3 separate regions of the Homo sapiens genome follow, and all the other regions are linked to region 3. The links come from fine-mapping of genetic effects on gene expression. A gene starts in region 3. Each other region holds a variant in brackets. All regions are shown on one strand. Distances are from middle to middle.

Region 1 (4,246 bases), 32 kb after region 3:
ATGATAGGTAGTAAGTGGGTAGAGAAAGATGAGAGAGTGTTGCTGCTTTAGAAAGCAGACTCAGAACTGTGGCCTGAGCAGTATAATGAGACCCTGTGTCTAAAATTAAAAAAAAAAAAAGGCCGGGCGTGGTGGCTCAAGCCTGAAATCCCAGCACTTTGGGAGGCCGAGGCAGGCTGATCATGAGGTCAGGAGATCGAGACCATCTTGGCTAACACGGTGAAACCCCATCTCTACTAAAAATACAAAAAATTAGCCAGGCGTGGTTTTGGGCACCTGTAGTCCCAGCTACTCAGGAGGCTGAGGCAGGAGAACGGCATGAACCCGGGAGGCAGAGCTTGCAGTGAGGCAAGATCGCACCACTGCAGCCTGGGCAACAGAGTGAGACTCCGTCTCAAAAAAAAAAAAAGAAAACACTACCCTTCTGCTCTACATTCCTTTCCAGCCAACAACCTAATTCTCTCTTTCCCCTTTAAAGTCATACCTCTCAAAATAATTGTCTACATACATTGGATTTTTTAACTTCCCATTCTATTTCAAGTTTTTTCCCACTGTACTGTACAGAAACTGCTCTCGCCAATATCACCAAGGACTTTCGGGTTACTAAATCCAATAATCACCTTTTTTTTTTTCTTTGAGACGGAGTTTTGCTCCTGTCGTCCAGGCTAGAGTGCAGTGGAGTGATCTCGGCTCACTGCAACCTCTGCCCCCCAGGTTCAAGCGATTCTCCTGCCTCAGCCTCCAGAGTAGCTGGGACTATAGGTGTCCACCACTGCACCCAGGTAATTTTTGTATTTTTAGTAGAGATGGGGTTTCGCCATGTTGGCCAGGCTGGTCTCGAACTTCTAACCTCAGGTGATCCACCCCCTTGGCATCCCCAAGTGCTGGATTACAGGCGTGAGCCACCGCACTGGCCTAATAATCACTTTTTAGTCTCATTTTAACTAGCATTCACAGCAGCATTAAGCTACGGCAGCACCCTGTGTTGGCTTTCCTCTAGTCACTCTAATTTCTCTTTCTGTGTCCTTTGCCAGCTATCTTTCTCTATCTGGCCTTGAAATGACAACATTCCTTTGTTTTTTTGCGGGGTGGGTATGGAGTTTCGCTCTTGTTGCCCAGGCTGGAGTGCAATGGTGCGATCTCAGCTCACTGCAACCTCTGCCTCCTGGGTTCAAGCGATTCTCCTGCCTCAGCCTCCTGAGTTGCTGGGATTACAGGCGTGTGCCACCACGCCTGGTTAATTTTGTTATTTTTAGTAGAGACGGGGTTTTGCCGTGTTAGTCAGACTGGTCTCAAACTCCTGACCGCAGGTGATCTGCCCATTTTGGCCTCCCAAAGTGCTGAGATTACAGTCGTGAGCCACCGCACCCAGCCGAAATGTAGATATTCCTAAAGCCTTGGACCTATGTTTTTTCTTGTATTTTTTTCTTTCTTTTTTTTTTTTTTTAATAGGCAGCTGGAGAGGCTGCTTAGGTCAATTATTTTCTTTTTTCTTTTCTTTTTTTTTTTTTTTTGAGACAGGGTCTTGCTCTGTTGCCCAGGCTGGAGTGCAGTGGCATGATCATAGCTCACTGTGACCCTGAATTGCAGGCTCAAGCAATCCTACAGCCTCAACCTCCCGGGCAGCTAGGACTACAGGCACATACCACCATGCCTGGCTCCTACATATTTTTTTTTTTGAGATGGAGTCTCGCTCTGTCGCCAGGCTGGAGTGTGACGGCGTGGTCTTGGCTCACTGCAACCTCCGCCTCCCGGGTTCAAGCGATTCTCCTGCCTCCCAAGTAGCTGGGACTAAGGTGCGCACCACCACACCCAGCTAATTTTTGGTTTGTTTTTTTTTTTTTTTTGAGACGGAGTCTCTCTCTGTCGCCCAGGCTGGAGTGCAGTGGCGCTATCTTGGCTCACTGCAAGCTCCGCCTCCTGGGTTCACGCCATTCTCCTGCCTCAGCCTCCCGAGTAGCTGGGACTACAGGTGTCCGCCACCACGCCTGGCTAATTTTTTGTATTTTTAGTAGAGATGGGGTTTCACCGTGTTAGCCAGGATGGTCTTGATCTCCTGACCTCGTGATCTGCCCGCCTCAGCCTCCCAAAGTGCTGGGATTACAGGCGTGAGCCACCGCGCCCGGCCTAATTTTTGTATTTTTAATAGAGACGGGGTTTCAACATGTTGGCCAGGATGGTCTTGATCTCTTGACCTCGTGATACACTTGCCTCAGCCTCCCGACATGCTGGCATTACAGGCGTGAGCCACCACCCCGGCCTCCTACATATTCTTTATAAGAAATGTTAAACACTATACTTTAGGGATCATTTCT[A/G]TAGTTTGTTGCTAGGGAAGTTTCTCTGAACATGTACAGCACTGCACAAAAATCAAATCAAAATGGATTAAAGACTTAAATCTAAGACCTCAAACTATGAAACTATGAAACTACTACAAGAAAACACTGGGGGAAATCTCCAGGATATTGGTCTGGGCAAAAATTCCTTGAACAATACCCCATAAGCACAGGCAACCAAAGCAAAAAATGGACAAATGGGATCACATCAAGTTAAAAAGCTTCTGCACACCAAAGGATACAATCAACAAAGTAAAGAGACAACCCACAGAATGGGAGAAAATATTTGCAAACTACCCATCTGGCAAGGGATTAACAACCAGAATATTTAAGGAGCTCAGCTCTAAGCAGGAAAAAACTAATAATCTGATCAAAAAATGGGCAAAAGATTTGAATAGACATTTCTCAAAAGAAGACATACAGATGGCAAACAGGCATATGTAAGGTGCTCAACATCACTGATCATCAGAGAAATGCAAATCAAAACTACCATATCATCTCACCCCAGTTCAAATGGCTTATTTCTAAAACACAGGCAATCACAAATGCTGGCGAGGATGTGGAGAGAAGGGAACGCTCGTACACTGTTGTTGGGAATGTAAATTAGTACAACCACCATGGAGAACAGTTTGGAGGTTCCTGCACTGCTGGGTATATACTCAAAAGAAAGGAAATCAGGTTGGGCGCGGTGGCTCACTCCTGTAATCCCAGCACTTTGGGAGGCGTAGGCGGGCAGATCACTTGAGGTCAGGAGTTCAAGACCAGCCTGGCCAACATGGTGAAACCCCATCTGTACTACAAATACAAAAATTTGCTGGCATGGTGGCCCATGCCTGTAACCCTAGCTACTTGGCAAGCTGAGGCAGGAGAATTGCTTGAACCCAGGAGATGAAGGTTGCAGCGAGCCAACATCGCACCACTGCACTCCAGCCTGGGCAACAGAGCGAGACTGTCTCAAAAAAAATTAAAATTAAAGTTAAAAAAGACGAATGGCGCCAGGTGTGGTTGCTCACGCCTGTAATCCTAGCACTTTGGGAGGCTGAGGTGGGCAGATCACCTGAGGTCAAGAGTTCGAGACCAGCCTGGCCAACATGGTGAAACCCCATCTCTACTAAAAATACAAAAATTAGCCAAGCATGGTGGCGCATGCCTGTAATCCCAACTACTCAGGAGGCTGAGGCAGGAGAATTGCTTGAACCTGGGAGGCAGAGGTTGCAGTGAGCTGAGATCATGCCACTGCACTGCAGCCTGGGTGACAGAGCAAGACTCCGTCTCAAAAGAAAAAAAAAGATGAATGGATAAAATGTGGTACATATGTACAATGGATTACTATTCAGCCATAAAAAAGAATGAGATCCCGTCATTTGCAACATCATGGGTAGAACTGAAGGTCATTATGTTAAGTGAAATAAGCTGGGCACAGAAAAACACACTTATGCAAAGAGAATCGCATGTTCTCACTTATTTGTGGGATCTAAAAATCAAAACAATTGAACTCATGGTCCTAGAGAGTAGAAGGATGGTTACCAGAGGCTAGAAAGGGTAGTGGGAGGGTAGGGGGAAGTGGGGATGGTGGGGATGGCTAATGGGTACAAAAATAAAATATCATCATAAATAAGACCTACTATTTGATAGCAAAACAGGGTGACTATAATCAATAATAACTTGTGTATTTTATTTTTTTGAGACAGAGTTTTACTCCATCACCCAGGCTGGAGTGAGTGCATTGGTGCCATCTCGGCTCACTGGAACCTCCACCTCCCGGTTCAAGTGATTCTCCTTCTTCAGCCTCCAGACGGAGTTGCTGGAATTACAGGCGCCCGCCACCACGCCCGGCTAATTTTGTTTTGTTTGTTTGTTTTGTTTTGAGACGGAGTTTCGCTCTGTCGCCAGACTGGAGTGCAGTGGTGCGA
Region 2 (4,246 bases), 54 kb after region 3:
ATCCTGTCACTACTAAAAATACAAAAATTAGCCGGGCTTGGTGGCAGGAGCCAGTAATCCCAGCTACTCAGAAGGTTGAGGTGGGAGAATCGCTTGAACCTGGGAGGTGGAGGTTACAGTGAGCCCCAATCATGCCATTGCACTCCAGCCTGGGCAACAGAGCAAGACTCCATCTCAAAAAAAAAAAAAAAAAAATTCCCCATGGGAACACGGGGATGATAATGCCTATCACATGGAGTCGTTGCGCATATTAGGTGAGTTAATAGTATAAAGTGCTCACAATAGCACCAGGTGAGTGGGAAGTGCTACCGTGGCTATCAGCACATCTCTTATTTCAGGTTGGCTTTATCCCTTCCACCTCTGCACCCACCAAGGACACCTGCCATCTCCTTATTGCTGAAGCCAATAGCCCTTCCCAAGTCCTAACCTTACCTGGCATCTCTTGTTCTTGACCCTCCTCCGTTGGCCTCTGTGACCTGACACTCAAGAGATTCTGGCCCAAGCACGGTGTCCAGGAATTCGAGACCAGCCTGGACAACATGGCAAAACCCCATCTCTACAAAAAATACAAAAAACTAGCCGGGTGTGGTGGCGCATGCCTCTAGTCCCAGCTACTTGGAGGCTGAGGTTGGAGGATCGCTTGAGCCAGGAAGTCGAGGCTGTAGTGAGCTGTGATTGCACCACCTGCACTCCAGCCTGGGTGACAGAGCAAGACGCCATCTAAACAAACAAACAAACAAACAAACAAACAACAACAAAAGACAGAAGAGGAAGACAAGATAATAAGCTCACAGCCCCAGCCTGGGTGTGGGCCCACCCAGCCAGTTGAGGAAGCCACAAGACAACAGCAAGAAAGGCCAGATGGGATTTCATTTTGTGCCTGAGTAGTGGCCCCTGGCTAGGGTCCTGTGTGGCAGAGATTAGAGAGGTAACATGGCCATGGATCAGACAGCCTGAGCTCAACCTTAAATCCCAGCCTGGGAAGAGAAGGGAACCCAGTCTTAGGCTCAGCACCTACGTGCTTGGCAGGAGCTCCTCAGCTTTGCGGAGGAGGCTCTAGGGAACCAGGCCAGGAGGGCAAATCAGCTTTCTCTTGCAAGGAGCCTGTCCTGGCCCCTCCTTCCCACTAACTTTCCAGACCCACTCCCTGGCTATATTGTCAGACTTCACCTGAACTCACCAAATTCAAAACTTAGGTCAGCTTGGGAACTTGGCAAATTGGGGAAGGGGCAAGTAGACCTTCACTCCTCCACACACATTGCAAAGCCTTTGGAGTTCTGGCCCCTGGACTGTTCCAGTCACCCTTCCCCTTTCCTCCAGCTACTCTGAACTTTCAGCTTTTTCAAGGACCAACAGCTCTCACTCCATGCCTTAAGGAGCACAGGGTTCCTCTTATGGAATACTTTCTCCTCCTGTCCATTACTGTTCCTGGCTAACTCCTCCTCAGCTCTCAGGTTTCAACTTAGAAATCTCAGCCTACGTACATTCCCCAAACTGGGTGTGATCCCACCTCTGGGCTCCCATAGGCCACCTCTATACCCTGTCTGTCTTCACCACTTAGCACTAATTACAGTCCAGTGTCCTTGTCCTACCGACAGGTCACGCCAGGGTGCAGCACAGGACCTGACACATAGAGGCTGCTCAAGAAAACGTTTGTTGAAAAAATGAACAACTGGCCTGGCTCAGTGGCTCATGCCTGTAATCCCAGCACATTGGGAAGCCGAGGCAGGCGGATCCCTTGAGGTCAGTAGTTTAAGACCAGCCTGACCAACATGGTGAAACCCATCTCTACTAAAAATACAAAAATTAGCCAGGCGTGGTGGCGGGGGCCTGTAACCCCAGCTACTCAGGAGGCTGAGGCACAAGAATCTCTTGAACCCGGGAGGCGGAGGTTGCAGTGAGCTGAGATTGTGTCACTGCACTCCAGCCTGGGCAACAGTGCCAGACTCTGCCTTAAAAAAAAAAAAAAAAAAAAAAAGGCCGGGCGCGGTGGCTGACGCCTGTAATCCCAGCACTTTGGGAGGCCGAGGCGGGTGGATCATGAGGTCAGGAGATCGAGACCACAGTGAAACCCCGTCTCAACTAAAAATACAAAAAATTAGCCGGGCGCGGTGGTGGGCGCTTGTAGTCCCAGCTACTCAGGAGGCTGAGGCAGGAGAATGGCGTGAACCTGGGAGGCGGAGCTTGCAGTGAGCCGAGATGGCACCACTGCACTCCAGCCTGGGCGAAAGAGTGAGACTCCGTCTCAAAAAAAAAAAAAAATTAGCTGGGTATGGTGGTGCGTGCCTGTAATCCCAGCTACTCGGGAGGCTGAGGCAGGAGAATCCCTTGAACCTGGGAGGC[G/A]GAGGTTGCAGTGATCTGCCATCCTGTCACTGCATCACTACACTCCAGCCTGGGTGACAGAGCGAGACTCTGTCTCAAAAAAAAAAAAAAAAAAAAAAGCTGGGTGTGGTGGTATGCACCAGCTGTAGTCCCAGCTACTTGGGAGGCTGAGTTGGGGGGATTGCCTGAGCCAGGGAGGTCGAGGCTTCAGGGAGCCATGATTATGCCACTGCACTCCAGCCTGGGCCACAGAGTGAAACCTTCTGTCAAAAACAAAAAAACAAAAAAACACAGTGTGTTAGATCTTGCTAGACTTGGTGATATAATTAAGAGGCCATTATGGGCAGAACTGTGCCCCCTTCCAAAATTCATATATAAATATATATAAATATATATAAATATATAAATATATATAAATATATAAATATATATAAATATATAAATATATATAAATATATAAATATATATAAATATATATAAATATATAAAAATATATAAATATATATAAATATATATAAATATATAAAAACATAAAAATATATATAAATATATATAAATATATAAAAATATATAAATATATAAATATATAAAAATATACAAATATATAAATATATACATAAATATATATAAATATATATAAATATATAAAAATATATATAAATATATAAATATATATAAATATATATAAATATATATAAATATATAAAAATATATATAAATATATAAATATATAAAAATATATATAAATATATAAATATATAAATATATATAAATATATAAATATATAAATAAATATAAGTATTTATGAATATATATGAATATATAAATATATAAAAAATATATATAAATATATAAATATATATAAATATATAAATATATACATATATACATATATAAATAAATAAATATAAGTATTTATGAATATATATGAATATATAAATATATAAAAAATATATATAAATATATAAATATATATAAATATAAATATATAAAAATATATAAAAATATATATAAATATATAAATATATATAAATATATAAATATATATAAATATATATAAATATATAAATATATATAAATATATATAAATATATAAATATATAAATATATATAAATATATATAAATATATAAATATATAAATATAAATATATAAATATATATAAATATATATAAATATATAAATATATATAAATATATATAAATATATATAAATATATATAAATATATAAATATATATAAATATATATATAAATATATATAAATATATAAATATATAAATATATAAAAATATATAACAATATATAAATATATATAAAAATATATAACAATATATAAATATAAATATATATAAAAATATATAACAATATATAAATATAAATATATATAAATATATAAATATAAATATAAAAAATATATATAAATATATAAATATATATAAATATATAAATGTATAAATATATATAAAAATATATAACAATATATAAATATATAAATATATAACAATATATAAATATATAAAAATATATAACAATATATAAATATAAATATATATAAAAATATATAACAATATATAAATATAAATATATATATAAATATATAAATATAAATATAAAAAATATATATAAATATATAAATATATATATAAATATATATAAATATATAAATGTATAAATATATATAAATATATAAATATATAAAAATATATAAATATATATAAATATATATAAATATATAAATATAAATATATAAATATATATAAATATATAAATATAAATATATAAACATATATAAATATATATAAATAAACATATATAAAGATATATAAAGATATAAAGATATATAAATATATAAATATATAAAGATATATAAATATATAAAGATATATAAATATATAAAGATATATAAATATATAAAGATATATAA
Region 3 (4,246 bases):
AAGAACAGGAGGCCGGGCTTGGTGGTTCACACATGTAATCCTAGCACTTTGGGAGGTTAAGGAGGGAGGATCTTTGAGCCCAGGAGTTCAAGACCAGCCTGGGCAACATAGCAAGACACTGTCTCTAATTAAAAAAAAAAAAAACCTCTCCCTTTCCCCCTCCCCCTCTCCCCGGTCTCCCTCTGATGCCAAGCCGAGGCTGAACTGTACTGCCGCCATCTCGACTCACTGCAGCCTCCCTGCCTGATTCTCCTGCCTCAGCCTGCCGAGTGCCTGGGATTGCAGGCGCGCGCCGCCGCACCTGACTGGTTTTCGTATTTTTTGGTGGAGATGGGGTTTCACCGTGCTGGCCGGGCTGGTCTCCAGCTCCTGACCGCGAGTGATCTGCCAGCCCTGGCCTCCCGAGGTGCCGGGATTGCAGACGGAGTCTCGCTCACTCAGTGCTCAATGTTGCCCAGGCTGGAGTGCGGTGGCGTGATCTCGGCTCGCTACAACCTCCACCTCCCAGCCGCCTGCCTTGGCCTCCCAAAGTGCCGAGATTGCAGCCTCTGCTCGGCCGCCACCCGGTCTAGGAAGTGAGGAGCGTCTCTTCCCGGCCGCCCATCGTCTGGGATGTGGGGAGCGCCTCTGCCCCGCCGCGACCCCGTCTGGGAACTGAGGAGTGTCTCTGCCCCGCCGCCACCCTGTCTGGGAGGTGAGGATCGTCTCTGACTGGCCGCCCCGTCTGAGAAGTGAGGAGCCACTCTGCCCGGCAGCCGCCCCGTCCGGGAGATGAGGAGCGTCTCCTCCCGGCAGCCGCCCCGTCCAGGAGGTGGGGGGAAAGCCCCCGACCGGCCAGCCGCCCCGTCTGGGAGGTGGGGGGCAGCCCCCTCCCAGCCGCCGCCCTGTCTGGGAGGTGGGGGGGGGGGGCGCCTCTGCCCGGCTGCCCCATTTGGGAAGTGAGGAGCCCCTCTGCCCCGCCGCCACCCCATCTGGGAGGTGTACCCAATAGCTCATTGAGAACGGGCCATGATGACGATGGCGGTTTTGTCGAATAGAAAAGGGGGAAATGTGGGGAAAAGAAAGAGAGATCAGATTGTTACTGTGTCTGTGTAGAAAGAAGTAGACATAGGAGACTCCATTTTGTTCTGTACTAAGAAAAATTCTTTTGCCTTGGGATGCTGTTAATCTATAACCTTACCCCCAACCCCGTGCTCTCTGAAACATGTGCTGTGTCCACTAAGGGTTAAATGGAAAAAAAAAAAAAGGAGGACAGGAACTATGTGTCTAGTTCATTATCTCCATTTCCTGGTACCATGCCTAGCAGGTGGTAGACTTCACTCAATAAATATCTGGTGAATCAGTGTCTTTCTGGAAATTTATACATAACTCCTTGAATGAGGCAACATGCTTCTGCACTATTTAATAAGAAAAACTAAGTCAAGTTTCTAATCTGTGGTTTTGTTTTGCTTTGAGAACAGGGTCTTGGCTATGTTGCCCTGTCTGGTCTCGAACTTCTGATCTCGAGCGATCACTCCCACCTCTCCCTTCCTAAGTGTTGGGATTAACAGGAGTGAGCCACCGCGCCCGGCCAAGTCTCCAACTTGCTCGAGGTCACTGAACTTGCAATTGAAGAAGCTACGATTCGAACCCATGTCTGTAGGATCCCAGAGCCCTCATTGTCAAATACATACTGAAGTTTCCCAGTTTTCGGGAACCCCGCAGTACAAGGTGACCGAGGACAATACCAGAAATGGGAGCCCCAGACCCCACGTAGCGGCGAAGTTCCCAGAAGGCACAGCGCTCGGGGGTGTGGCCAGACGCATGGGCGGTGCCAAGCGTAGGAAGATGGTTGGGAACTGCGTCTCCCCCAAGGCTCCGCAGGGCGCCGCTGACTGGCGGAAGCGAGGGCGGGGACAGCGGAATGACGTTTTAAGGACGCTTGCGCGCGGGATTTAAACTGCGGCGGTTTACGCGGCGTTAAGACTTCGTAGGGTTAGCGAAATTGAGGTTTCTTGGTATTGCGCGTTTCTCTTCCTTGCTGACTCTCCGAATGGCCATGGACTCGTCGCTTCAGGCCCGCCTGTTTCCCGGTCTCGCTATCAAGATCCAACGCAGTAATGGTGAGGAGCGGGGTCCCTAGGTCAAGGGGACTCGTGAGCGGTGAGACGACTGAAATTACTGCCCGTCCCCGGACACACAGATGGGCTTTCACTCTCTTTCTCTCCCTCCCTCCTTTTCACACGCACTCACTCCGGGTCTCTGCACTGGCAGTCATTCTTGCCTACACAGGGGTGAGAGTCCCTGCGCTGTACGTGGTCCCTTTCGCAGTCCTCTGGGAGTGGGCGGACCTTCTCCAAGGCTGGTAGACCTCCCAGGGAAGTTGGGACTTCTAAATTCACTTCCCTTCCAAAATTCTCCCCTGAAAATGCCCTGCTCTTATGGGGACCTCGGTCTCCTGGCCCCTTTACTCTCGAATAAATATTGCGCAGTTGCGGTATGTCAGGTAAACGGGACAGACAAGAACCCTGCGCTTGAGGAGCTTGTAGTCGTTCTCTCTTTTGCTTAAGCAGGTACCGCAGTTCTGGCAGGTCTGATACCCGTGTCATTAGGGAAATGGACAGATATGACCGCCAGAAATGAGTTAGGAAAACCCCAAAAGGGCCAGATCCTCAATGCTATGTTGAGGAAAAGTTCATCTAAGGGTTGTGGGGAATCCTGTGCTCAAACATACCTTTTGTATGTTCTCTTTTGTAGGCTCTATCTCTCTTTTTTTGTAGGCTCTCTTGAGTAGGGGTGAATCCTTATCCCATGCAGCTCAGTTTAAAAACCTGTCCCCAGCCCACCTCACTGTGGATATTCTAAAGGTGAAGCCCAGGAGATTTATTTGTTTCTCTTAGTTTTTTTTTTTTTTTTTTTTAAGGTAGCTGCCTGTTCCTTCAGGTTAACTCCACTTTGGGAATCTCTGTGGAATCCTAAAAGTGAAGCTCTCAGGAAAGAGATGGGTAACTCTGGTTTTTTCATACTTTATAGGTTTAATTCACAGTGCCAATGTAAGGACTGTGAACTTGGAGAAATCCTGTGTTTCAGTGGAATGGGCAGAAGGAGGTGCCACAAAGGGCAAAGAGGTAGGTTCTATGAGAATTCCTCTACCACATTTAATGTCTTCCTACATAAAGGATCTGTGCAGAAGTGGAATCTGTGAGAGCCTAGTTTCTGATGCTGTGCTCTTCTCACTCACGCCTGTAATCCCAGAACTTTGGGAGGCTGAGACGGGCAGATCACCTGATGTCAGGAGTTCGAGACCATCCTGGCCAACATGGCGAAACCTGTCTCTACTGAAAATACAAAAATTAGCCAGTCGTGGTAGTGCATGCCTGTAATCCCAACTACTTGGGAGCCTGAGGCAGGAGAACTGCTTGAACCTGGGAGGCGGAGGTTGCAGTGAGCCGAAACTGTGCCGCTGCACTCCAGCCTGGGTGACAGTGAGAATCTGTCTCAAAAAAAAAAAAAAAAAAAAATTGGCTGGGTGCGGTGGCTCTTGCCTCTAATCCCGACACTTTGAGAGGCCTGGTCTGGAGGATTGCTTGAGCTCAGGAGTTCGAGACCAGCCTGGGAAAAATGTTGAGACCTTGTCTCTACAAAAAAATTAAAAATTATCAGGGTGTGGTGGCTCACGCCTGTGGTTCCAGCTACTCGGGAAGCTGAGGTGGGAGGATTGATTTAGCCTGGGAGGTTGAGGCTGCACTGAACCATGATCGAGCCACTGCACTCTGGCCTGGGCGACAGAGTGAGACCTTTCCTCAAAAAATAAAAATGGTCTTCTTGGCTGGGCACAGTGGCTCACATGTATAATCCCAGCACTTTGGGAGGCCGAGGTGGGCAGATCGCTTTGAGCTCAGCAGTTCAAGACCAGGCTGGGCAACATGACAAAACCTCATTTCTACAAAAAATACAAAAAACATTAGCCGGGCATGGTGGTGCATGCCTGTGGTCCCAGCTGCTCTGGAGGCTGAGGCTGGAGAATTGCTGGAGTCTGGGAAAGCACAGGTTTCAGTGAGCTGAAATTGCACCACTGCTCTCCAGCCTCCTGGGCAACAGAATGAGGACTTGTCTCAAAAAAAAAAAAAAAAAAAAAAAGAATGGTCCCCTTCCAGATGCATTGGGATTTTATTTAGTCAGGTCCATTCTAAATTGAAGCAATCAATAATTTTCTGGGTTTTTTTTGTTTGTTTGTTTGTTTGTTTTGAGACAGAGTCTCACTCTG

Which allele goes with the higher level. Positions count from the first base shown, and alleles are read on the strand shown. Sizes are in standard deviations (SD) of each study's normalised expression. Not every link is listed here.
For the expression in thyroid of the gene that starts at base 1,937 in region 3, allele G in region 2 goes with a lower level than allele A (small effect, 0.37 SD a copy in GTEx).

The links. PIP is the estimated chance that this variant, and not a neighbour inherited with it, causes the effect.
Region 1: its variant is the best candidate, but not a certain one, in a credible set for the expression of KIF2C in whole blood (INTERVAL, PIP 0.81).
Region 2: its variant is the best candidate, but not a certain one, in a credible set for the expression of KIF2C in thyroid (GTEx, PIP 0.54).

The regions. Positions count from the first base shown.
Region 1 is chr1:44,770,354-44,774,599 of GRCh38, forward strand. No RefSeq gene overlaps it. Among named protein-coding and RNA genes, the nearest start is that of RPS8, 3.1 kb to the right of the region's middle. The variant A/G (reference allele first, on the strand shown) is at 2,316.
Region 2 is chr1:44,792,251-44,796,496 of GRCh38, forward strand. It overlaps a transcript of BEST4 not described here. Among named protein-coding and RNA genes, the nearest start is that of PLK3, 6.0 kb to the right of the region's middle. RefSeq lists enhancers at 1-112, 805-1,494. The variant G/A (reference allele first, on the strand shown) is at 2,344.
Region 3 is chr1:44,737,901-44,742,146 of GRCh38, forward strand. It overlaps KIF2C (kinesin family member 2C), which reads left to right and starts at 1,937. Exons shown (of 21, transcript NM_006845.4): 1 at 1,937-2,102; 2 at 3,013-3,107. The coding sequence starts at 2,033. RefSeq lists an enhancer at 1,588-1,757.